Homo sapiens: one gene and its partners. The protein of the gene in region 7 purifies or fractionates together with the protein of the main gene of each other region. This does not show direct contact. Each region holds a gene or a part of one and is shown on either strand. Other genes may lie near its edges. The genes, in order: MYBL2, MRPS27, TDG, TRIM11, PLIN3, LRP4 and ZSCAN26.

Region 1 (2,435 bases), on a different chromosome or scaffold from region 7:
GGATTTAGGGCCACAAGGGCAGAGGCTCTGGCCCATCCTGGCCTCCTGCTCAGCCTTGGCCAATGGGGCTAGAGGGTTCTGCCCAGCTGCCTTCACCCCTCTTCCTTGCTTACTGGTCTGACCTGGGGGCCACGCTCAGCTTGAGGCAGGGGCTTGTTAATGGGCAGGTGAGCCACCCAAGGCAAGGGCCAGGCAAGGCCCTACTGCACCAACCCATCGTCCTCCTCCGCCCCCAGTCTCTGCCCACCCCCGCCCAACCCCATGGCTATTAATACTCAGAGCTTTGCAGAGATGCCCACTGGGTGCAGAGACGAGAGAAATTGCTCTCATCTCATTGTGCCCCTCTGTGGAAACAGGGTCAAGGGCTCAGGCCTGGGCTGTGCCGATAAGGCTGGCCTCTGAGGATGAGCATTCAGGTCCCTATATCCCAGAAGAGGCCCCTAGGTCACCAGGGAACCATGAGCAGGGCCCAGTAGAGAGGCAGAGTCCAGACCAGCACAAAGAGAGAGGCAATTTTATTCTTCCAAAAAAATGCACCAAGAGAGGGTGAGCACAGGAGCACCCCTGGCCACATCCCCCATCCTAAGCAGGGTCTGAGATGAGGCCAGGCCTGACGTGGGCTTGGGAGAAGCTGACGGAGCTCCCTGTGGCCTTGGGGAGGGAACCAGGCAGACCTGGAAGTGGAACTTTGTTGTTAGCACCAGGAGCCGCCCACAGCTGGGCTCGGCAACAGGGCAGCACATGGCCCTGTTGCCTCCACCTGAGAGTCTGGGGAGGGGCTGGTGGCAGAAGGCTCCCTGCAGGAGGTCACCTGAATGACTCTCAGATTCACAGACCCCCTCTGCCCCCACAACCCCTGTAAACATGAGAATGGGCTCGTGACACCCTCAACACCTCAGGACAAGATGAGGGTCCGAGATGTGTGGCTGGGCTTCAGGCGGCCCAGGAGCTGCCGGGCTTTCTCCTGCATGAAAAGCTGGTCCCTGGTCCCCCCGCAGGCCACCGTCTTCCAGGCACTGGACATCTGGGAGGAGGCAAGAGGGTTACCATCCAGGCAGGGACTATGTGTTCCCAACAGACCCTGGTGATCCTGGCCAGGGAAGGGTAGAGTTATAAGCCTCCCTCCCCTAGAAGCCAGAGCCTTCTTATTCTCTCTCCACATTCCCTGTGACCCTGGACAAGTCACTTCCTGGCTGTGGGCTTCCTCAACTGTAAGTAGGACGCTGGACAAGGAGACATGGCCATGCACTGCCCGCCCCGTGCAGCACCAGCCTCGAGGAGAAGCCACAGCCAGGAGGCGGGTGAGAAGGAGCAGTGAGACGGGTCAGCAGCCTGAAGCCAGCCCCTGCTTGAGGACAGACATGTACTAAGCAAACCAAATACAGGGATAATGACTTAGTTACAAGTGAAACCCAGGCCACAAAAGAGAGAATGGCAGAATGGGGGTATCTCTACAGAATGTAGGGTCAGAGAAGGCTTACCCCTAAGGAAGCAGCATTGAGACTGAAATCAGAAGAGTAAGTTAAGCAAATGCAGCCACGGGAAGTAGCAGGAAAAGCACCCAGGCAGAGGAACAGCCTATGCAAAGGCCCTGAGCTAAGAAGGCGGGCACTGCAGGACCCCCAGGGATGGCCAGCACTCAGCCCTGAGCTAAGAAGGCGGGCACTGCAGGACCCCCAGAGATGGCCACAGCACTCACAGGGGCAGGTGTCGTGAAGTGGCTTCGGGGCTTCTGGGCCACTGCTGCCTTCTCGGGCTTGGCCTGCAAGAAGCCCTGGTTGAGCAAGCTGTTGTCTTCTTTGATACCTGACAGGGTGAGGCTGGAAGAGTTTGAAGGGGCAGTTGTCGGCTGAAACCAAAACCAAGTCAAGGAGTCACCATTTTGCGAGAAGCTGTGAGAGGGAAGAAAAAAACCCGCAATCCCACCCCAGCACCACCACCTGGCTGCTGAGACCTGAAAGAGGATACACACTTTTCCAAGCCTCAGTTTCTGCTTTCAGATAGGGAGTTTACATGAGCTTAAGCTTACTTTATACTTAAAAGATTAAGCAAAGGGCCAGGAGCGGTGGCTCACGCCTGTAATCCCAGCACTTTGGGAGGCCGAGGCAGGCGGATCACGAGGTCAAGAGATCGAGACCATCCTGGTCAACAGGGTGAAACCCCGTCTCTACTAAAAACACAAAAATTAGCTGGGTGTGGTGGTGGGCGCCTGTTGTCCCAGCTACTTGGGAGGCTGAGGCAGAAGAATGGTGCGAACCTGGGAGGAGGTGGAGCTTGCAGTGAGCCGAGATTGCACCACTGCATTCCAGCCTGGGAGACAGAGCCAGACTCCGTCTCAAAAAAAAATTAAGCAAAGAACTTAATCTTGTTCTAAAGAACTTTCTTACTTAAAAAAAAAAAATCAAGTAATCAAGTAAAGAAACGTGTGTGCGTTT
Region 2 (3,500 bases), on a different chromosome or scaffold from region 7:
CAAAAGGACACCTAGCACCTAGATCTTGGTTTCTAATGCCATTCCTCACCAAAAGTAACCAGAGCTCCTTGGAGAAATGGTTGATTCCAGGGCTAGGCCAGGAAGGGTACACAGTGAGCCTGAAACACCTTGTTATATGAGAGAAAGTAAGTTATCAAAAAAGAGGGGGGTGGGGGAAAATGGAAGCCAGCTTGAAAGGGCTTCTATCAGCCAAGTCTGGGATATTTAGACCACCAAAATAATTGAGAAGGGTAATGAATCATTTAAAAAATTCACAAATTGATGATTTAAACATAATGCATGATAATAAACAGATAAATGAGAAAGAAATGAGAGAAAAGGAAGAGTTCTTGCTTATAGTAGAATACTGAGTGTTAGCTAGTAAATCTGGAGAAATTTTCAGAGTTGGAAAATCATTACTTTGCAACCATTATAGTAAAGATTGATTCAGGCTAAAGCCATGAATGGATGCCAAATCTAAGAGCAAACTTTTGATAAACAACATATTTGCATTACATTAAAGTCTCTCTCCGAGAATAGCCTATTAATCAGAAGGGAGAAAAACAGTAACTCTGCAGTGGAGAAATCAGACACAGTTGACTAGGTGATCAAAACTGACATCACCAGTGAAGGCATATGATATCAGGTATGTCCACATGTGATACCCTGGCAGGGGCACAACATCACTGAGAGTATTCTGGCTGGGGAAGCATAACAATGAGAAAATAGCAGAAAAATCCAAGAAAGAGGAATATTCTATTTAAAAAAAGAGATTGGGTTCTTTAAAAATATATAGGACAATGTCATAAGAAACAAAGAAAGGATAAGGAACTATGATTCTAGACAGCATCCTGTACTGGAAGAGGAAAAATGCTATGAGAGACCCTATTATTGGGTCAATTCCCAAAACTGGGATATGAATAGTAAAGTATTATATTAATGTCAAAATTTCCGAAGTTGGTAACTGTGCTATGATTATACAATAGAATGTCCTTATCTCAGGTAATGTACATTGAAGTATTCAGGATAAAGAGCTATAATATATGAAACAAACTCCCAAATGATTAAAGAAAGTGTGTATACAGGGGGAAGGAGGAGAGAGAAAGCAAAAACAAATGAATCAAAATGGTAACGACAGGTGAACATGAGTAAAAGTAGCGCTGTGGTTTAAATATTTGTCTCCTCTGAAACTCATGTTGAAATTTAATCCCCAGTGTAACAGTTTTGAGAGGCCAGTGGATCATAAGGGCTCTCCTCTGATGAATGAATTAATCCATTCATGGACTAATGGGTTAATGGATTGATGGGTTATCACGGAAGTGGGACTGGTGGCTTCATAAGAGGAAGAGAGACCTGAGCTAGCATGCTCAGCCCCCTCGCCATGTGATGCTCTGAGCCACCTCAGGACTCTGAATAGTCCTCACCAGCAGGAAGGCTCTCACCAGATGCCACCCCTCAACGCTGGCCTTCTCAGACTCTCTAACTGTAAGAAATAAATTCGTTTTCTTGATAAATGATCCAGTTTCAGGTATTGTTATAAACAACAGAAAACAAACTAAGACAGATATAGAGGAGTTCTTTGCAGTTTTTATAAGTTTAAAATTATTTCCCGCTGGGCGCGGTGGCTCAAGCCTGTAATCCCAGCACTTTGGGAGGCTGAGGTGGGCAGATCACCTGACACCAGGAGTTCAAGACCAGCCTGGCCAATAGGCAAAACCCTGTCTCTATTAAAAATGCAAACATTAGCTGGGCGTGGTGGCGTGCGGCTGTAACCCCAGCTACTCAGGAGGTGGAGGCAGGAGAATCGCTTGAACCCAGGAGGCGGAGGTTGCAGTGAGCCGAGATGACGCCACTGCATTCCAGCCTGGGCGATAGATAGTACAGACTCTGTCTCAACAACAATGACAATAACAACAACAAAATTATTTCCAAATTAAAAGATTAAAAAAATTTGCCATGTCATTTGTGACATAATTATACCATCAAAAACAACCTGTTTATCATTAATGGAACTAACTCCATTTTTCATATAAGCAAAGTTTTTTTAATGGAAAATAAGGTGAATTTTGCAACTCTATATTGAGGGAAGACATACCTTTGAATCAATCAGAACTTTACCAAGAGTTGTTCATTCTATAAATAAAATTATGTCATTATGATAGCGCCACTCCTGGTATTTGAATTTGCCAGTATACCGCATCTCTACCCATCTACACTTCTTCCATGTCTATAATTATTCCACATTTATATGCAATATTTACCTGCTTCATTGTTTCTTACTGTAGTTTTGCCTGGACATTTGTTTACAAATTGAAATACATATTGTTTAAGTTACTTCCCCTTTGTTTCTCCTCTGTATCGTGGCGAAGGAATCATACTGATTTTTTTTTTTTTTTTTGAGATGGAGTCTTGCTCTGTTGCCCAGGCTAGAGTGTAGTGGCAAGATCTCGGCTCACTGCAACCTCTGCCTCCCGGGTTCAAGCGATTCTCCTGCCTCAGCCTCCGGAGTAGCTGGGATTACAGATGCCTGCCACTGCGCCCGGCTAATTTTTGTATTTTTTAACAGACGGGGTTTCATCATCTTGGCCAGGTTGGTCTCAAACTCCTGACCTCATGATCCACCAGCCTCAGCCTCCCAAAGTGCTGGGATTACAGGTGTGAGCCACCACACCCAGCCATATACTGGTTTTTAAAACAGTAAGTATAGATAGATTATATTAACTATGAATTTAGTTTCAAGATGGCAAAAGAAGAGTATGATAAAGTACTTGTTATAAGAAGGCTACCCTGGGCCTCTTATAGACAGAATGAGACTGTAAGTTTCTCATGGAGAAGCTGCGATTACTTATCTTCAGATCTTCCACAGCTCTGCTTCAGCTGGCCTGTGCACATACACCCATCTCAGAGCTCACAGCCAACTCTGCTTGTGCAATCACATCATCAGTAAAGAAAAGGATGAGATCTTTGAAAATCCCAATAAGGTAGCCATTAGAGACAGCAATGTCTCCTGCACTTATGGGAAAAATCCATAAACACAGGGGACTTTATTCTTAACTGACATAAGCCCAAAACACAGCTAAAGAAATCTGGGGGAATATATTAGATCAGCATAGGAATTGATCCAAAAATTACATCAGTCTCATAAAACTATCACCAATCTATTTATTTTATTAATGTTCCGATGATGTTATATATACCAAAGGGCAGGCAGTACCAAAAGTCTAAAGTATGCACATTTTTAAAAACTGCTCATTGAGTCAGTGATTTCTTTTGGGGCTTGGTATTTTACAAAAGAAAGGCTGTTGTCTGTGTAATATGACATAGGGAACAGGAGAAAAGAAAGTATAATTATAAGCCCAAAGCCTGGGAAGATGTTAACCAACTATTTCTCTAAACAGCTTACATGAGATTGTAACATTGCCTTCAAACCTGTCACCTGGTAATGAAATAGAGAAGAGTCAAAAAGGGCTCTGAAGACCACAAGAGGAGTTAAGAAAATA
Region 3 (3,251 bases), on a different chromosome or scaffold from region 7:
GGTGAAACCCTGTCTCTATTAAAAATACAAAAAAAATTAGCCAGGCATCGTGGCGGATGCCTGTAGTCCCAGCTACTCGGGAGGCTGAGGCAGGAGAATGGTGTGAACCCAGGAGGGGGAGCTTGCAGTGAGCCAAGATCGAGCCACTGCACTCTAGCCTGGGTGACACAGCGAGAATCTGTCTCAAAAACAAACAAACAAAAAAGAAAATGTACTGTAAAAGTCTGTGTAATTCAACGTGAAATAACCATCAATTTTTCACTATTAGTCACTAAATAAAATTTCATATTATCATTCCCATTCTTCAATAATTTACTCTCCTTCTATTAAAATTTTCCCCCCAATCCTGACCAAACCGTCTTTGAAAGGAATACACATGTGGAGGGAACCATACTTAGCCCATTTGAAGAGAAGCCACAAGGTTCACTGCTGCATGGATTTTCTCCGTAAGCACCACCATATGCTGCCTCATAACCTGGATCATATTTTTCTTCCTTAACAGCCATCTTCTTTGCATCCTCTGTGAGGAAGGTAAAAAGGATTTAAATCTGATTTTGTACAACAATTTTAAAAGTAGCTTTATTCAGAAATCATGAACAATTCTTTTTCTTGAATATTCATATACACTGAGATACATCTCTATTAATCTTTTAAACTTATAGCATGTACTAAATAAACACATAAGAACTGTAAAAACCGCTTACATTCAACTTTACGTAGGGTACAATATTTCTTACATCCCTCTGCTCTGGCACTCTGCAGGTGAATTATCTGCAGAAGTGCCAGAGTAGAGGGAAGACCTTGGTAAAAGGAGATTTTAACAGTGACTAATATTCATTATCAGAGCACTCTGGCTGCGAATATAATTGTTTTCTTTTTTCCTGCTTTTAAATCCATAAGATACTTTCTGTAATGTGTGTGTGTGTGTGTGTGTGTGTGTGTGTGTGTGTGTGTGTATGTGTCTATATATAGACACACACATATGTATACGCACACAAGTGTATACACACATATATGTATATAGACATACATACTTATGTGTATATATGTATATATACACATGTATATATACACGTGTGCATATATGTGCACACATATGTATATGTGTATATGTATATATGTATATGTGTATATATATGTAAGTATATATGTGTATATATACACACACAAAATGAATAAAAGGAATGAGGACAGTAACATACCTTGGGCAAGCTGTAGGTCAAATGTATATTGCACCTCTTGAACGTCCATATTTCGTTCAATGCCTTTCAACTGATCTCTTAAGTCCTTCAGTTTTATGTAGTAATGAACTTTGTCTTGGGCTCGAGGAAACTGAGCACATCTTGCACTGGATGATGGCATAACATAGCAGAGCTAGAATCACAACATTTTATAATTTCAGAAATCTTATAATTCTATTGAATTCACTCATTGAGATTAGAATATTTGTCTTTATTTGGGTTAATAACTTGATACTTAACTACATATAAATATATGTAAAAATCAATAAAAGTAGTTGCTTTTAAGGTTGAATTTGTAATACTGACTTATTACCAAGTCAGGAAGTGAAAAATAATGAGCCTCCGCCTAATGAGCTGCCTCCTGGGTTCAAGCGATTCTTCTGCCTCAGCCTCCTACGTAGCTGGGATTACAGCGCATGCCACCATGCCTGGCTAATTTTTGTATTTTTTAGTGGAGATGGGGTTTCACCATGTTGGCCAGGCTGGTCTCGAACTCCTAACCTCAGGTGATCCGCCTGCCTCGGCCTCCCAAAGTGCTGGGATTATAGGCATGAGCCACCACGCCCGGCCTCCAAATGGCATGTAACAGAGAATGACACAGTACTCTACAGGAATTTCTCTACAATTCACTACAGGTAGTGAATTTGTACCATTTTAACCAAGCAGACAAAGGTGGGCCTTTATTTAAGCAAAAACCAATGCTATAATAAAACTCATCAATTGCATATTTATAAGAAATTATGAACAAAAACAATTTTAAAGGAGAAATTTAAATATATTTAGGTGGCAGAAACATTTTTAGGTTTCCACAAAAACCTGGCAGCAAATTAGCTTCTCCATCAGTTAAGATGTTGTATATACAACATGTAAATCTGTGCACTGTGTTGTTCTTTAAAAGTTGTAAATAAAACCTAAAACTAAGAAGCAAAATTGGAACCAAATGCCTGCAGAAGCTCTGTAGAGAGGACAATTTGAAAAACACTGTTATTTCATGATGACTTTGTGTATAAGACAACAGTATTGAATGCCAGTTAGGTTGGCTGGAGGCTTGTCTGGGTTGTATTATTTATATGGCTCTAAAATGAAGTTGAGCTAAGATATATAAATGGGGCAACTGGTTTTCCTAATCAGGATCATGTCTGTGTTTCCATGTTTGTTTCACAACAGTACGAGGGCTAAACCATTTGAATTTGACAACTACATGCCATTAAATGTATTCTGAATGTAGTATATGAGCCAGTTCCTCTCAATATTTTCACTGAATAACAACATCAAGACATTTAGCTGACAAATGTTTTTCTTTCTAATAAACCCTAATAGTATTTGAATTAATTTACAACTATTAGTTAAAGCTGATGTATAGGTATTATTCAACAAAATACAGTGTAATTGTTTTGCATGGTATAAATCACAATGGATAGGACAAATAAGGAAATTATCTAGAAAAAAATTCACATTTAGCTGATTTACAAATTCAATTTTAGGGACTTACAGTTTCTGTGTCTGGAATCTTATGGGGCTGAAGCCCAAATTCCAAGTTCTTAACCTTTACTCCAAAAACTTCTTTACTAAAAATTTCATAAATACCTAAAATGAAATACAAACATATTTACATTGCCCATAATGTTAGCAAAGAAAAAAAAAATTTAAAAGTAAATCTTACATTTTCCATTAAACACTGCTATTCGTGGCTGATATTTCTGTAATTTCTGTACTAGAATACGTCCTCCTTCACGAAATTCTTTACTAAAATTGAATTAAAAAGTAGTCAAAAATATAAATATGACAATATTTATAATATGCTAAATTCAGACAGCTTTCAATGAAAGAGCATATTGTACATTTGTTGAGCTCAGCTTGAACTAGATACATATGATGTTCCTAGAATATTTGGGGCACCAGCATACTCAAGGTTCCAACCCATAAAAGCAAATGCTGTGTACTTACCTGGAGAGATCTTTGCTGCCGGGCGTGGTCCTTTCCACCATGTTGGTAAATCCAATACCATAC
Region 4 (3,500 bases), on a different chromosome or scaffold from region 7:
GAGAGAGCTGACTCCAGGCCCCCTGACCTGCCGCCAGGCCACAGGCCAGGGCGTCCACTGGTTCTGGTTTGGGGGTGCACCAAGGAAAGCCCAGGCCCAGGGGGCCGGCTCAGGGAGTGGAGCCCACACATGGGAAAAGACTCTCCTGGAAGCAGAGGAGGAGGAGACTGCCCCCCATAATGGAGATGCATGGGGTGTGCCAGCGGGGTGAAGACAGAGTGAAGGGCGAGGACTTCCTGCTGGGGACACCATGGCAGGAATCCTATGGGAGGCCCAAGGTGGTCCCAGCGAGCACATGCCCACTCTGCTGTGCCCACAGGGAGCAGCAGTGTCAGTCAGGACGAGATGGAGTGACCTTATGTAATCACTTAAGAAACATCAACTGTTTACATCTACAGAGGAAAATTGATTTTCCCTTTCTCGGCACGTGGGTTTTGGGGGTGGGACATCTGTCCTGCTGCTGACTCAGCATTTCACAGGCAACAGCCAGGCACATCCAGCCATGCCATTCACCTCTCAGCCCAGACAACCTCTCTGCCCCTGCTTCTTGCACTTTCTGGTTCTCCCTCCCCCAGTGTGGCCAGGCCATGCCCGTGTGGCCACCATGGCTGCTCCCCGCCCAGCTCACCTGCAGCAGCCCCAGAGCAGGCAGCTGGCAGCGGCCCTCGAGCTCGGCGATGAGCTCAGCTAGGTGGGCGCTCTGCTGGCCTAGGTGGGCTGCGCCCTCCCGCAGCCGGGGCAGCACCTCCAGCTCCTCCTCCTCCAGCCTCTGCAGCAGCTGCTGCTCCTCCTCTGCCAGCAAACGGCGAAGACGCTCGAACTCACCCAGCACGTTCTGCCGCTGGCTCTCCACCATCTTCTGTGGAGCCCAGGGAGAAGGACAGCTGAGGCCAGACCCCAGGCCCAGCCAGACCCCAAGTTTGGTCAGACCCCAAGCCCACCCAGAGGCCTGGCTGCACCCAACCCCACCCCCGGGGCCTGCTAAAGCCAAAGCACAGCACCAGGTGTGGCAGGACCCCAAACCCACCACCTGGTGCTGGCCAGACCCCAAACCCACCTGTGGCACCTCCCAAACCCCAAATCCACCACTCAGGGAGAGCCAAATCCCATTCTACCACACAGGACTGGCTAGACCCCAAATCTAAACCCAGGGCCGACTAGATCCCAAATCCACTATCTAGTCCCTCCCCAACTTCCAAATCCACCCATTGGCTTGGTAGAACCCTGCATCTACCACCTGGGGCCAGCTGGACTACAAATCTACCACCCAGGGTCCCTCCTGACCTCCAAATTCTCCCCTGGGGCTTCCCAGATCCCAAATCCACCACCCAGAGCCTCCCAGACCCCAAATCTACCCCAGAACTGGACAGATCCCAAATCTACTCCTCAGGATGGCTGAATCCCACATCTATGACCTAGTCCCTCAAAACCTCCAAATTTACCTCCAGGGCCCAGACCCTAAATACACCTGAGAGTTGCCACCCAAGCATGCTGGGACCCCAGGATGGGGCCCTTGCAGTATGGGAGCCCACGCCCACGACCTGGCAGGACAGGTGCACGTGGGAAAGGACCAGCCCTTCAGTGGGCTCGGTGGGGCCAGGCTGAAGCAGTGACTGGTCCTGGGGCGCCAAGGGCAAGTGTGCCTGGCCAGCATCGCCCCCTGGGGTCTCCTATACAGGACCTTCACCCCCTACCCTGCCACCCAGGACCCTGGGAGCCCCAGCACCTGCCTGCCACAAGACGCAGGTCTCATCCGCCTGGGCTTGGAACAGCAACGCATCCTGCATCTGCTTCCGGAGATGCTCCAGTGACTTCTCCAGCTTCGCCTGCGGGAGAGGCCAGGCAGGACCATGAGACATGAGTCCTGTCACAGAAGCCTGCCCTTTTGCACCTGACACCCTGTCCCCTCCTCAAAGACAATGGGGACAAACTGAAATCTGCCTGGTGAATCAGGGAACTCAATGCCCTCCAATAAGCGTGAGCCCTCATGGTAGGTGGGCAGCCTCTTGCCAGAGGCTGACAGCCCCAGCCACATTCTTTCCTTTTTCTCATATGGGGCATTTCTAGTCCTCGACCTTGCTACCCTAGCCCAGGCCTCACCCCCCTTTGCAAAGCTACCTCAAGGGTTCTGGCTGCCCACCCCATCTGTCCCCAAGCTGGCTCTGAAGGTGCTGAGCTCTCCTGTTCCCAAGCCAGTGTCTACTCCTCCTCCTCTTCCTTCTCACCTGCTGGCTCACATAAGGGCCTTGGACCAAGCCTATGCTGGGGTCCAAAAATTCTGCCCTATGCCCCCACAAATTCATAGGTTGAAATCCCAACACCCAGTGTGATGATGTTAGGAGGCGGGGGCTTTGGGAGGTGACTAGGTCAGGAGGGCAGTGCCGCCACAATGGGATTAGTGTTATAAAGGAACCCTCGCCCCTTTCACCATATGACAACACAGTGAGAGGGTGTTGTCTGTGAACCAGGAAGCACCCTCACCAGACACCAAACCTGCCAGGGCTTGATCTTAGACTTCCAGCCTCCAGAGCTGTGAGTCTCCAGCTTGTATACATCTGCCATGTGCAAACCATGGTGTTTTGGTAGGACAGTCAGCACGGACAGACATGCCTGGCTACCCACCCTATCTTTTCTCCAAGCCACTCGGGACCTTGTGCATTTTCAGCTTCATCAGCTATCACTGTAATAAGCTCCAGGATGGGTACACCTCCATTCTGCTTTCTTGGTCCTTAATTCTCATTCCCACGGTTCCTCATGCTGTGCATACCAGGAAGCAGTGAAAATCCTGTACACAAGCTCACTGTACTGTGTGTGCTTGGGGTGCCCTGAACCCACTTCTCGAAGGGTCTGCTCACTTCCACCCCATCTGACACCCTTATCAGCAACGGGCCCTGTGCTGGCCACACCTCTTTGCTTCTCAGCCACCCCAAGTCTTGGCTCTCATCTCTCGCTATCCACGCTCTGGAAGGATGGAGGTGCTGGGAGGGTCCAGAAGTCTGCCCCGGTAGCAGAGCCAGGACTTCAGCCCAGCTGCCTGGCTCCAGGTGCTCACTTTAGTTCACCACTTGGCCTCACGATTCGGGAAGACCGCTGGAGCACCAAGGACATGTCCAACTGCTTTACTGTCTCTGCCTAGGCTCAGCTCTCACGTGAGCTACAAGAACCCCAAATGGCGGTCCCTGTCCCCAGGCCTCTCTCCTCACTGCTGCCGACCTGTTCCAGAAAACTCAGGCCTGGCCCCTGTGACCCCAACCCCACCTCAAACACTTGGCCCAGTGCCTCTCACTTCTCCCTCAATGCCTCAGTCCCTACGGGACATTTTCAGTTTTCTTTTTTTGAGACGGAGTCTCGCTTTGTCCCCCAAGCTGGAGTGCAGTGGCACGATCTCGGCTCACTGCAACCTCTGCCTCCTGTGTTCAAGTGATTCTTCTGCCTCAGCCCCCTGAGTAGCTGGGATTACAGGTGCCCATCACCACACCCAGCTAATTTTTGTATTTTTT
Region 5 (3,500 bases), on a different chromosome or scaffold from region 7:
TTCTGTAGAAAAGAAAGTGGGACCCAGGCTGGGCCTGGTGGCTCATGTCTGTAATCCCAACACTTTGGGAGGCCAAGGCAGGTGGATCACCTGAGGTCGGGAGCTCGAGACCAGCCTGACCAACATGGTAAAACCCCATCTCTACTAAAAATACAAAAATTGGCCAGGTGTGGTGGCACATGTCTGTAATCCCAGCCACTCGGGAGGCTGAGGCGGGAGAATCGCTTGAACCTGGGAGGTGGAGGTTGCAGTGAGCTGAAACTGCACCAGTGCACTCCAGCCTGGGCAACAAGAGCGAAACTCCATCTTAAAAAAAAAAAGAGGGGGCCGGGCACAGTGGCTCATGCCTGTAATCCCAGCACTTTGGGAGGCCGAGGCGGGAGGATCACGAGGTCAAGAGATTGAGACCATCCTGGCCAACTTGGTGAAACCCCGTCTCTACTAAAAATACAAAAATTAGCTAGGCGTGGTGGCAGACGTCTGCAACCCCAGCTACTCAGCAGCCTGAGGCAGGAGAATCGCTGGAACCCGGAGGTGGAGGTTGCAGTGAGCCGAGATTGCACCACTGCACACCAGCCTGGCAACAGAGCAAGACCCCGTCTCAAAAAAAAAAAAAAAAAAAAAAAAGTGAGGCCCACAGAGGCAAAGTAACTTGTGTGAGGGCCACCCAGCTGCTGAGGGGCAGGACACAGTTTGGAACATGGTGTTTTTTTTGTTTTGTTGTTTTTGAGACAGAGTCTCGCTCTGTCGCCCAGGCTGGAGTGTAGTGGCGCGATCTCAGCTCACTGCAACCTCCGTCTCCTGGGTTCAAGTGATTCTCTTGCCTCAGCCTCCCGAGTAACTAGGACTACAGGCACACGCCACCACGCCAAGCTAATTTTTTTTTTTGTAGTTTTAGTAGAGATGGGGTTTCACTGTGTTTGCCAGGATGGTCTCGATCTCCTGACCTTGTGATCCGCCCACCTCAGCCTCCCAAAGTACTGGGATTACAGGCATGAGCCACCGCGCCTGGCCAGAATATGGTGTTTTTTTGGTTTTTTTTTTTTTTTTTGAGATGGAGTTTCACTCTTGCTGCCCAGGCTAGAGTGCAATGGCATGATCTCGGATCACTGCAACCTCCGCCTCCAGGGTTCAAGAAATTCTCCTGCCTCAGCCTCCCGAGTAGCTGGGATTACAGGCACCCGCTACCACACCCAGATAAATTTTGTATTTTTAGTAGAGACGGGGTTTCTCCATGTTGGTCAGGCTGGTCTCAAACTCCCAACCTCAGGTGATCCTCCCGCCTTGGCCTCCCAAAGTGCTGGGATTACAGGCATGAGCCACCGCGCCCGGCCAGGAACATGGTGTTTTGATGTTTTGACTTTCCTGCCGCCAACCTTTTCTGACTAATAAGTTATGGAGGTGGCAACATTCTGTGTAAAGGGCCACGTAACTAAGATTTTCAGTACTGTGGGTCACAGTCTCTGTCACAACTACTCAACCTTGCCATTGTAGGGTGAAAGCAGTCATAGACAATATGTAAATAAATGGGCATGGCTGTGTGCCAATAAAACTTTATTATAAAAACAAGTGGGCTGGGCACCGTGGCTCATTCCTATAATCCCAGCACTTTGAGAGGCTGAGGCAGCTGGATCACCTGAGGTCAGGAGTTCGAGACCAGCCCGGCCAACATGGTGAAACCCCATCTCTACTAAAAATACAAAAACTAGATGGGCATGGTTGCAGGCGCCTGTAATCTGGCTGGCTTTGCAATTATTCCTCCAGCTACCCTGTGGGGAGTGGATTCGGGGTGGGGATGGGAACCGACAGGAGAGGCAGCAGGGAGGATGCCATCAAGCTTGTCTAGTTAAGCTGGGACCAGCGCACTCCACACCCAGGTAGGTCCCTGTCTCGACAGAGCCCCTGAGGACGGACATCGTTACCTTCTCCGTGGGCTGCTGCAGGATGGGGAGGTTCTCCTCCAACTTGTCCAGCCCCCTGTGGGCGTATTCGCTGGCTGATGCAACTGCCAACAACAATTAAGACGCAAATGTGACTGCTGGAAGGTCACCTAGTAATGGTTCAGGGGGACAGGACCAAGAGCTGGGTAGACCCCCCTACTCCCCACCCAGGGAAATGACCAGGAGGGGAATTCAGTGCCCCCTGGGACTTCACCCACTCTGGGGCTCCAGCTTGGAGAGGATCGGCTGAGCCCCGCTGACAGCAGCCGCCGTGAGGGTCCTCACTCCCTTCTCTGCTGCGTCGCAGACAGTCTTGATGTGCGGGTAGCTCTCCTTGGTGGAGGCATAGGCTGCGGACACCATGTCGCAGGTGGAGCTGATCAGAGGCATGCTGGCCACACGGTCCACCACACTGGGCTACAGGAGAGAAGTGGCTCAGGCAAACTGGGTGGGGGAAGATGGGGAGCTCAGCCGGAAACTCAGGGTGCCCTGCAGTTTTGCTCTTACTCCTGGCCAGTGAAACGGCTCAGTTTACCCACACTTTGCATCCAGGCAGTTGCACAAGCCAGGAACCTTGGGGTTTCGCCACGTGCTTCCTTTATTTTTATTTTATTTTTGAAACGGAGTCTTGCACTGTTGCCCGGGCTGGAGTGCACTGATGCGATCTCAGCTCACTGCAACCTCCACCTCCCAGGTTCAAACGATTCTCCTGCCTCATCCTCCTGAGTAGCTGGGATTACGGGTGCCACCACGCCCAGCTAATTTTTTTGTATTTTTAGTAGAGATGGGGTTTCACCATGTTGGCCAGGCTGGTCTTGAACTCCTGACCTCGTGATTCGCCCACCTCAGCCTCCCAAAGTGCTGGGATTACAGGCGTGAGCCACCGCACTCAGCCCACGTGCTTCCTTGAACACAGGCTATTTACATGAGCCTGCACTTTATCCCAGCGATGTGCCAGGTGGTGATAAGGGACAACAGTTCCATTCTCATGGCAGTTAGGGTCTAAACCGGGGGCTGTAGACCACAGCCCATGGGTCACAGCCAGCGCACCACTTGATTTTTAAATTTTAATTATTTTTGGGGCCAGGAGCAGTGGCTCACGCCTGTAATCCGAGCACTTTGGGAGACCGAGGCGGGTGGGTCACTTTGGGTCAGGAGTTTGAGACTAGCCTGGCCAACATGGTGAAACTCCGTCTCTACTAAAAATACAAAAATTAGCCGGGCGTGGTGGCACATGCCTGTTACCCCAGCTACTTGGGAGGCTGAGGCAGGAGAATTGCTTGAACCCAGGAGGCAGAGGTTGCAGTGAGCCAAGATGTCACCACTGCACTCCAGGCTGGGCGACACAGCAAGGTTCCATCTCAAAAATATATACATAAAATAAAATCACCTGAGGATGAGAGATCTGGAATAGAAACTGGCCTCCTAGGACGTCCCTGAGAGAGCCTTCAGAGGTGAGGATGATTTGGCTCAGGGGTTGGGGAGGGCAGGTAGTTTCAGACAGAACCCTGCTCCCTCAGGCCCTCCAAGGGCCTTTGAGATTCCCCCCTCCCAACTGGG
Region 6 (3,500 bases), on a different chromosome or scaffold from region 7:
CCCGATCACTGTCTCCATGTTGCTGCCGTTCAGGTCTGCTCGCCTTGGGGAGAGCCCAGTGTTGGATGAGCAACCAGACTGACCCAGAATAGAGTAGAACTTTAACCCATGTTCCCATAACTGGACCCCACTGAACTGTAAGCTCCACAGGGATAGAGACCAGGTATCTATGAGTACATTCCTCAGCACCCAGCATGATAGATGTTCAATAAAATAATTGCAGAATGAAGGAACCAGTTCTTAGGAGGACACAGTATTTCCTGCTAACTGGACATAGTGGCGGTTGCCAGGGGATGTCTTGCTAGAAGACAAGTTTATCATTCCCCACATACCTTTGGGAAGAGACAAGGATTGCTAGGTGGTGATGATAAGAAACGCAGATTTGTCAAAACCAACCTGTGCATTTTTTAAAAGTTAAAAACAATTTTAAATACAAGTAGATATGAGGTTTCATTATGTTGCCTAGGCTGGTCTTGAACTCCTGGGCTCAAGCAATCTTCCCGCCTTGGCCTCCCAAAGTGCTGGGATTATAGGCGCGAGCTACCACGCCAGACCCTAATTGTGCACTTTTGCAAAGGCCCTATGGGCAGGAGGGAACTCTACCTCAGAATGGGGAGCATGTCACTGTCACCTAGGGGACTTCCCTAAACTGTATATGCCTACCTGTCCCCAGTTTGAGATTCTAATACATCCCTTGGGGAGAGCAAAGGGGAATGTTCCCTGTTCCTCCATGTGAGAATATCTGCCATGGTAAACCACTCTTACTGGTGGCAGGACATCATATTCCTAAGCTGTGTTAGGGCCACAAATTTAAAGACTAAAAATAAAACAACGAAAAAATAAAAAACAACAGCTTTGTAAACCACCATAAGACTTGGCATTTGATTGGGGCTCCTTTACTGCAATACAGATACTGGTTATATGGCCTACTCATCAGTAAGTCCTAGGGGATTCTTGGAGCTCCCTCAGGGCACAATGGTAGATGTGAAAGTCTCCAGGTCCCCTGACTTTACCTGTTTTTTTTGTTGTTGTTGTTTGTTTTACATACTAGGCTTCCATATAATCTCTAAACAAATGAAAGTTTGAAACTCTGCTGTAAGTGACAACACTACAAAGTGAACAAGTCAGGATTAAAACTCACTATCCAAAGTGCCAAATCACTCATCCATTTAGTGGTCAGAACACAACCTCACCCATGGGCGACCAGAAGCAAATCTGTGTCTTCTGGAGGTTTCAGTGTTGCTCATACCTGATAACATCCAGGAACACATCTGTGTAATAGACCTTTCCATCCACGCTGTCATAGTCCAGGGAGATGACATTGTTGAGCTCAGGAACAGGGACATGCACATCGGTGTGGTCACTGGTGTCCAGTGAGATACGCCGGATGGAGCCACGGCTGGAGAAGAGCAGGTAGGTCTCAGGAGAGGGATCACAGGTCTTCCCATCTCCCTTCAGCTGGATGCCAGTGGGGCAGGCACAGGAGAAGCCAGAAGGCCGAGGCAAGCAGAGGTGGGAGCAGCCGCCATTTCTCGAGCCGCACTTGTTAAAACCTGGTGATGAGAAGCACAAGTATTCACACCTAGCCTGGAACATCATCTGAATCTTACAAAGGTCCCAGTTGTTTGTGGCTGGCTCTTTGCTGTTCTAAGTGACAGGATTCAGTGCCTGGCAGGGTGAGGTAGAAGGAGGGTCTGCAGGAGGATCTCCAGGAGTCCTTTGAAGGTGACAGCTGTAGTACCAGCCATACCCAGAGAGAACACAGCCCAATCTGGAAGGGAGCTTAAACAGGTCACCGTCTTTCTGGCTGTAAAGGAGCTCTGTGCTCTGGATATATCTCTGATGTTGAGATGGCCCCAGAAAGCCAGAGGCTCTGACTCACAGCCCCAGCCCTCTGACTCTCACCTAGTGGCTGTGCCCGGTCCACAGCCTGCATGTCCATGAGGCCTGGCAGGTTGGACCTCACGAGGATGACATTGCTGCCAGTACCCTTGTCAGCACGGTGGATGCTCCGAGTCTGCCAGTCAGTCCAGTAGATATAGGAGTCGAGCAGGGTGAGGCCATATGGGTGCTGCACCGGTGACACCAATGTATGCCGATTGGCACCATTCAGGTCAGCAGCCTCAATTCGCTGCAGAGGAAGGAGAGGGTGGGGGGTGGTGATCAGCAGATTGGGAACTCTCCATGGAGATCCTAGGCAGGCCTTTCCCATCTTCCCAGGCTCCTGGGAAGCAGCAGGGACACGGCTCTCACCTCGGTGTGGGCATCGGCCCATAGCAGTTGGGAGCTGGCCTTGTCCACAGTCAGTCCATTGGGCCATCCTAGGTTGTTGTTGATGAGCACCGCGCGGTCTGAGCCATCCATTCCGGACCGCTCTAACTTGGCATTCTCCCCCCAGTCTGTCCAGTACATAAACCTGAGTGAGGAAGAATATTAGCTATATTAGCTAGTTATTCCAGCAGCTACCACATACCATGAATACTTAACAGTATGTCAGATACACTTGAGTACTTACAGTATGTCAGGCAAAATTTTTGCTTGACAAAGTACTTTGCAAAATACTTCATGTGCATTATCTCAACCTTCATAAGGGCCACAAGGTATGTATTTTCACTACCACCTCCATTTAATAGGTAAGGAAGCTGAGAATTAGAGAGGTTAAATACCGGACCCAAGTGATATAGCTAATACATGATGAAAACATTTCAATCCTGGTATTCTGATTCAAGGCTCATGCTTTTAACTTCTACACTGTACTGTCACCCTGCGAGAAGTCACAAGAGAGTGGAAGAGCCCCAGGGAGGTCACCTTGTTTCTGTGATGCAAGCTTCCTCTCCACTACCCACCTTTACCCCGTCATAACCCCAGCTGAGCTGGCCCCCCACACTACCCAGTGCGATACAGCCAGCTCTCACCCCATCTCATGGTACAGTACGATGGCCCGGGGACTGTCAAGGTTCTGCCACACCAACACTTTCCGCATGGACCCGTCCAGGTTGCCCACTTCAATCCGGTTTGTTCCCGTGTCTGTCCAGTATACTTTCCGGCCAATGGCATCAACCGCGAGCCCATCTGTGGTCTGTAGCCCTGTGGGAAGTCAAAAGAGCACACTGGCTCCTATTTTAAAACAGATGGGCTATTTCCCCAGCCCTGTTGCCAGACAGGTGGTCCCTGGGCTAGGAGGAAGGCCCACCTGTGGTGATGATGTCCTCATGCTGTGAGCCATCCAGATTGGCACGACTGATCCTGTGCAGTGTGCTGTCAGACCAGTACACCTTTCCTGGAGAGGGAAAGCTTGGCTCAACCTAGACCCTCACCGCCTACAATGGGACACACACAGCTGATTCATGTCTTGAAACACCAGAGCATGTCAGAGAGCTCTGGAGCCTCTAGCAGAGGAAATCAAGGAAAACGCAGAAATATCATAGCAGGATAGCTCTTGGCAGAGACGGAGAGAAGAGGGCCCCAAACCATGCTCTCACAACCAAAGAGAGAGTGCT
Region 7 (3,500 bases):
TTTGAAGGAAATGTTAAAAAATGAGTAATGAAGCATGTGGCTTTCTTTGCCTTGATTAAGAAACTAGCAGTACTTGTTTTTTTTTTTGTTTGTTTGTTTTTTGAGACAGAGTCTTGCTGTGTCGCCCAGGCTGAAGTGTAGTGGCGTGATCTCAGCTCACTGCAATCTCAGCCTCCTGGATTCAAGCAGTTCTCTGCCTCAGCCTCCCGAGTAGCTGGGATTACAGGCACCCGCCACCAAACCTGGCTAATTTTTGTATTTTTAGTAGAGACAGTGTTTCACCATCTTGGCCAGGCTGGTCTTGAACTCCTGACCTCGTATACCTACCCACCTTGGCCCCCCAAAGTGTTGGGTTTACAGGCATGAGCCACCATGCCTGGCCACTATTTGCTTTTTTAAGAGATGTTGCCCAGACTGAAGTGCAGTGCAACAATCATTGCTCACTGCAGCCTTGAACTGGGCTCAAGTGATCCTTCTCCCTTAGCTTCCCAAGTAGCTGGCCTGGCACTGCTTTTTTTATTCACCCCTACAGTAAGAGGAAGAAGAGCAAGGTGAAGGTCCAGGTTCCCTTTGTACCCTTTTCTTGCTATTTTGTTCAGCTAAAATATTTGGGGTGATAGATATCTCTTATCTCTTGATAGTGGTCCTGATTAGACCACAATTATTTCGCATTTGTGAAAACTCATTGACCTGTACATCTAAAAAGAGTGAATTTTACTACATATAAATTATGCTTCAGTAAACCTGACTCAAAACAAAAGCAAAAAACAAAATACAAGGGTGCTAAGCACAACCTCAGAGGGAAAGGCACAGTCCACCACGTCTCACACACAGAAGATGCAATCCAATTCTTACCCTTCTCTTTCTCAGGCTTTGTAACTTCACACTCATGCCGAACCTGCTGTTCCTGTACTCCTTTCAGAGGGGCCATCTCCTCCACAAGTATTTTTTGTTTCTTTGGCTGGTCTGGGTCCTAGGGACAATTAGGTATATGGAGGCATAATTAGATATATGTGGGTTTAGGAAACTGCTGTTCAGTAAAACACCTAGGTGTTAAAAAAGAGAAGAAAGAGAAACCCCAGAGGGGCAAAGAAAAGAAGATGGGGAATCTGGTGCACATTCAGTTTTCTCCAAGCAAGGGCCAGGTAAGGTTGAGGTAAGACCTAAGGAAATTAACAGCTAGACTGGAAAAAAACTGAATCAAAGCTTAGTAATTCTCCTTCCGCTGATGAGCCCATGTCCACCTGTCTGGCCAGAGATCTCAATTCCTGCATTCCTGAAAAAGAGCACATCTGACCCTTACCACCTGTTGTCCTGTTTCTCCAAGATCCAGCTGCAAATCCTCCAGAACAACAACCACGTCCTCCCTGCTCTCTGGGTGATGCTCCTGCACCCGGGCCTGGAGCTCCTTAGGCAGGATGATCAGAAACTGCTCCAGCACCAGCAGCTCCAGGATCTGCTCCTTGGTATGGGTCTCGGGCTGTAGCCACTGTTGACAGAGCTCCCGGAGCCGACTTAGTGCTTCTCGAGGTCCTGTGGTCTCTTCATAACGCAACTGCCTGAATTGTTTGCACAATGGCTCCTGTCCAAGGCCTTTACTGTTTCCTTGCAGCTTGAATCCCTGTTCCCAAGTAGAGTAGTGATCCTCCCTCACTACCCGAAGCCCCTCCTTCTTCAGATTCAGGGGAGCCAGGGAATGGGCACTCACCAATGCTGTTGCCATCCCCAGCTTCAGACTGTTCTCCTTGTTTTGGAGAACTTTCTTTGGACTGTATCTTCAGAGACACTCCTAAAATTATAGTAACAAGAGTGACAGAAACAGTAATAGTACTGCTAACAAGAACAGTAACATTTTCTTGGGTTTATACATTTCCTATTATCCATTTTTTCTCTCTAAAACAACCATTTCTAAACATACATACAGAAGGAAAAAACTATCTTACAGAATACCATCTAATGTAGAAGGAATAATAGATTTGAAAAATCACCATTTTGTAGCCCTCAAAATAACTGAGGCTAGGCACTGTGGCTTACACTTGTCATCTCAGCACTTTGGGAGGCTGAGGTGGGAAGACTGCTTAAGCCCAGGAGTTTGAGTCCAGCCTGGGCAACATAGTGACACCAGGCATGGTGGCACATGCCTGTAATCCAAGCTACTCGGGAGGCTGAGGAGGGAGAACTGCTTGAGCCCAGGAGTCTGAGTTCAGCCTGGGCAACCAGAGCAAGACCTATATCAAAAAAGGAAGAAAAGAGAGAAAAAGAATGAAAGAAAGAAAGAAAAAGAAAAGAAAAAAGACAAGTGAAAGACAAGGAAATAGAGAAAGTTTTTTCAGACAAAAAAGACACCATAAAGCTGTTGGATGTTCAGTGTAGTAGTTAGTTATGGCTGGGAAAACGTTATATGGAGCCGGAATCCTGGGAAACATCTACATGTAAGAAACAGAAGTGAGATGGAACTGGAAAGGTAGGAGGAGAAAAAAGACAATAGTATCCAGAAGGTCAAGGAGGTCTATTTCTGTAAATGTGGAATGGTGGAAAGACCCTGGGCCTTAGACAGGCCTGGGTTCCAATCCAGCCCTGTCACTTACATGTTGTGACCTGGGGCAAGTAACTTATCCTTTTGGACTTAGTTTACTCATTTGTAAAATGAAGATAATACCTAATTCACAGAAGTTTTGAGGTAAATGAGATAATTCTAAAGAACAGAAGGAATTCACTGATTTATAAGGGAAATGATATGAGCACAGTGTTCAAGAGTGTGAAATGCTATAAGATGGTGAATTAATCTAAGACCTGGCATAGACACTTGATTCAAAAACAAAGATGTCATTAGTGACCTCTGTGAAGGTAATTTTGGTAGTGAGAATAGCTAGCCTGCCATAGGAAATGAGAAAATGGAGAGTGAGCATAAATGACAAATTTCAAAAAAGTAATACATTGAATGGAACAAGAAAGATAGGGCAGAAACTAGAAAGGGCTAATGTAGAGTATAAGTATTTTTGTGACTTCAATTACTGTCCTTATGCTGATGATTTCCTTATTCTTCAGGTCAGATATCTCAAGTGTCAGACCTGAATTTCCTTCTGCCTATTTGGGACCAGGATACCCTACAGAAGCCTCTCAAATCCAACATGTCAAAAATGAACTCAGACAATTCCCTACCATCCTTTGGGGCAGGCCCTTGGTATGTGGGGATTTAGCATTCTTGATTTTGACTATGCTTGAGTATCCCTATAGATCAGTGAAACACCATCTGTCAGCTGCTGACACATGCCTTTGAATCAATGTGCATGCGGTAAGTGGGAGAACGGGAGAAGGCTCACTTAATCAGTGGCTTAGCCTCCAAACAGTTTGCTGTTATATATTCCTGAATGTGTATATAGTTAACATTTCCCAGCTGATAATTATTTTTCTTAGTCAAAATGAACTTAAACTTTAAAAAGCCAATTCCTAGTATTCTTAATATAAGTAAAAAAGTCCAAGAAAGTGATGATTATCAG

The links.
Region 1: the proteins of ZSCAN26 (region 7) and MYBL2 purify together in Homo sapiens (affinity purification with mass spectrometry; one large-scale study listed by BioGRID and IntAct). This does not show direct contact.
Region 2: the proteins of ZSCAN26 (region 7) and MRPS27 purify together in Homo sapiens (affinity purification with mass spectrometry; one large-scale study listed by BioGRID and IntAct). This does not show direct contact.
Region 3: the proteins of ZSCAN26 (region 7) and TDG purify together in Homo sapiens (affinity purification with mass spectrometry, with the first as the bait; one large-scale study listed by BioGRID). This does not show direct contact.
Region 4: the proteins of ZSCAN26 (region 7) and TRIM11 purify together in Homo sapiens (affinity purification with mass spectrometry; 3 studies listed by BioGRID and IntAct, with this or other methods). This does not show direct contact.
Region 5: the proteins of ZSCAN26 (region 7) and PLIN3 purify together in Homo sapiens (affinity purification with mass spectrometry; one large-scale study listed by BioGRID and IntAct). This does not show direct contact.
Region 6: the proteins of ZSCAN26 (region 7) and LRP4 purify together in Homo sapiens (affinity purification with mass spectrometry; 3 studies listed by BioGRID and IntAct, with this or other methods). This does not show direct contact.

Annotation. Positions count from the first base shown.
Region 1 is NC_000020.11:43,714,548-43,716,982, reverse strand, and holds the end of MYBL2 (myb-related protein B), read right to left. Parts: intron 1,850-2,435; coding exon 1,700-1,849; intron 1,025-1,699; coding exon 896-1,024; 3' UTR 501-895; downstream 1-500. UniProt on the Homo sapiens protein: Transcription factor involved in the regulation of cell survival, proliferation, and differentiation. Transactivates the expression of the CLU gene.
Region 2 is NC_000005.10:72,310,241-72,313,740, forward strand, and holds part of MRPS27 (small ribosomal subunit protein mS27), read right to left. Parts: intron 1-3,500. UniProt on the Homo sapiens protein: RNA-binding component of the mitochondrial small ribosomal subunit (mt-SSU) that plays a role in mitochondrial protein synthesis. Stimulates mitochondrial mRNA translation of subunit components of the mitochondrial electron transport chain.
Region 3 is NC_000012.12:103,982,872-103,986,122, reverse strand, and holds part of TDG (G/T mismatch-specific thymine DNA glycosylase), read right to left. Parts: coding exon 3,189-3,251; intron 2,988-3,188; coding exon 2,905-2,987; intron 2,829-2,904; coding exon 2,734-2,828; intron 1,375-2,733; coding exon 1,203-1,374; intron 521-1,202; coding exon 395-520; intron 1-394. UniProt on the Homo sapiens protein: DNA glycosylase that plays a key role in active DNA demethylation: specifically recognizes and binds 5-formylcytosine (5fC) and 5-carboxylcytosine (5caC) in the context of CpG sites and mediates their excision through base-excision repair (BER) to install an unmethylated cytosine.
Region 4 is NC_000001.11:228,400,336-228,403,835, forward strand, and holds part of TRIM11 (E3 ubiquitin-protein ligase TRIM11), read right to left. Parts: intron 1,827-3,500; coding exon 1,731-1,826; intron 860-1,730; coding exon 629-859; intron 1-628.
Region 5 is NC_000019.10:4,857,668-4,861,167, forward strand, and holds part of PLIN3 (perilipin-3), read right to left. Parts: intron 2,358-3,500; coding exon 2,159-2,357; intron 2,006-2,158; coding exon 1,923-2,005; intron 1-1,922. UniProt on the Homo sapiens protein: Structural component of lipid droplets, which is required for the formation and maintenance of lipid storage droplets. Required for the transport of mannose 6-phosphate receptors (MPR) from endosomes to the trans-Golgi network.
Region 6 is NC_000011.10:46,873,551-46,877,050, forward strand, and holds part of LRP4 (low-density lipoprotein receptor-related protein 4 precursor), read right to left. Parts: intron 3,281-3,500; coding exon 3,194-3,280; intron 3,088-3,193; coding exon 2,916-3,087; intron 2,417-2,915; coding exon 2,254-2,416; intron 2,132-2,253; coding exon 1,906-2,131; intron 1,554-1,905; coding exon 1,250-1,553; intron 867-1,249; exon of another isoform or gene 44-866; coding exon 1-43. UniProt on the Homo sapiens protein: Mediates SOST-dependent inhibition of bone formation. Functions as a specific facilitator of SOST-mediated inhibition of Wnt signaling.
Region 7 is NC_000006.12:28,270,143-28,273,642, reverse strand, and holds part of ZSCAN26 (zinc finger and SCAN domain-containing protein 26), read right to left. Parts: intron 1,790-3,500; 5' UTR 1,724-1,789; coding exon 1,304-1,723; exon of another isoform or gene 974-1,303; coding exon 856-973; intron 1-855. UniProt on the Homo sapiens protein: May be involved in transcriptional regulation.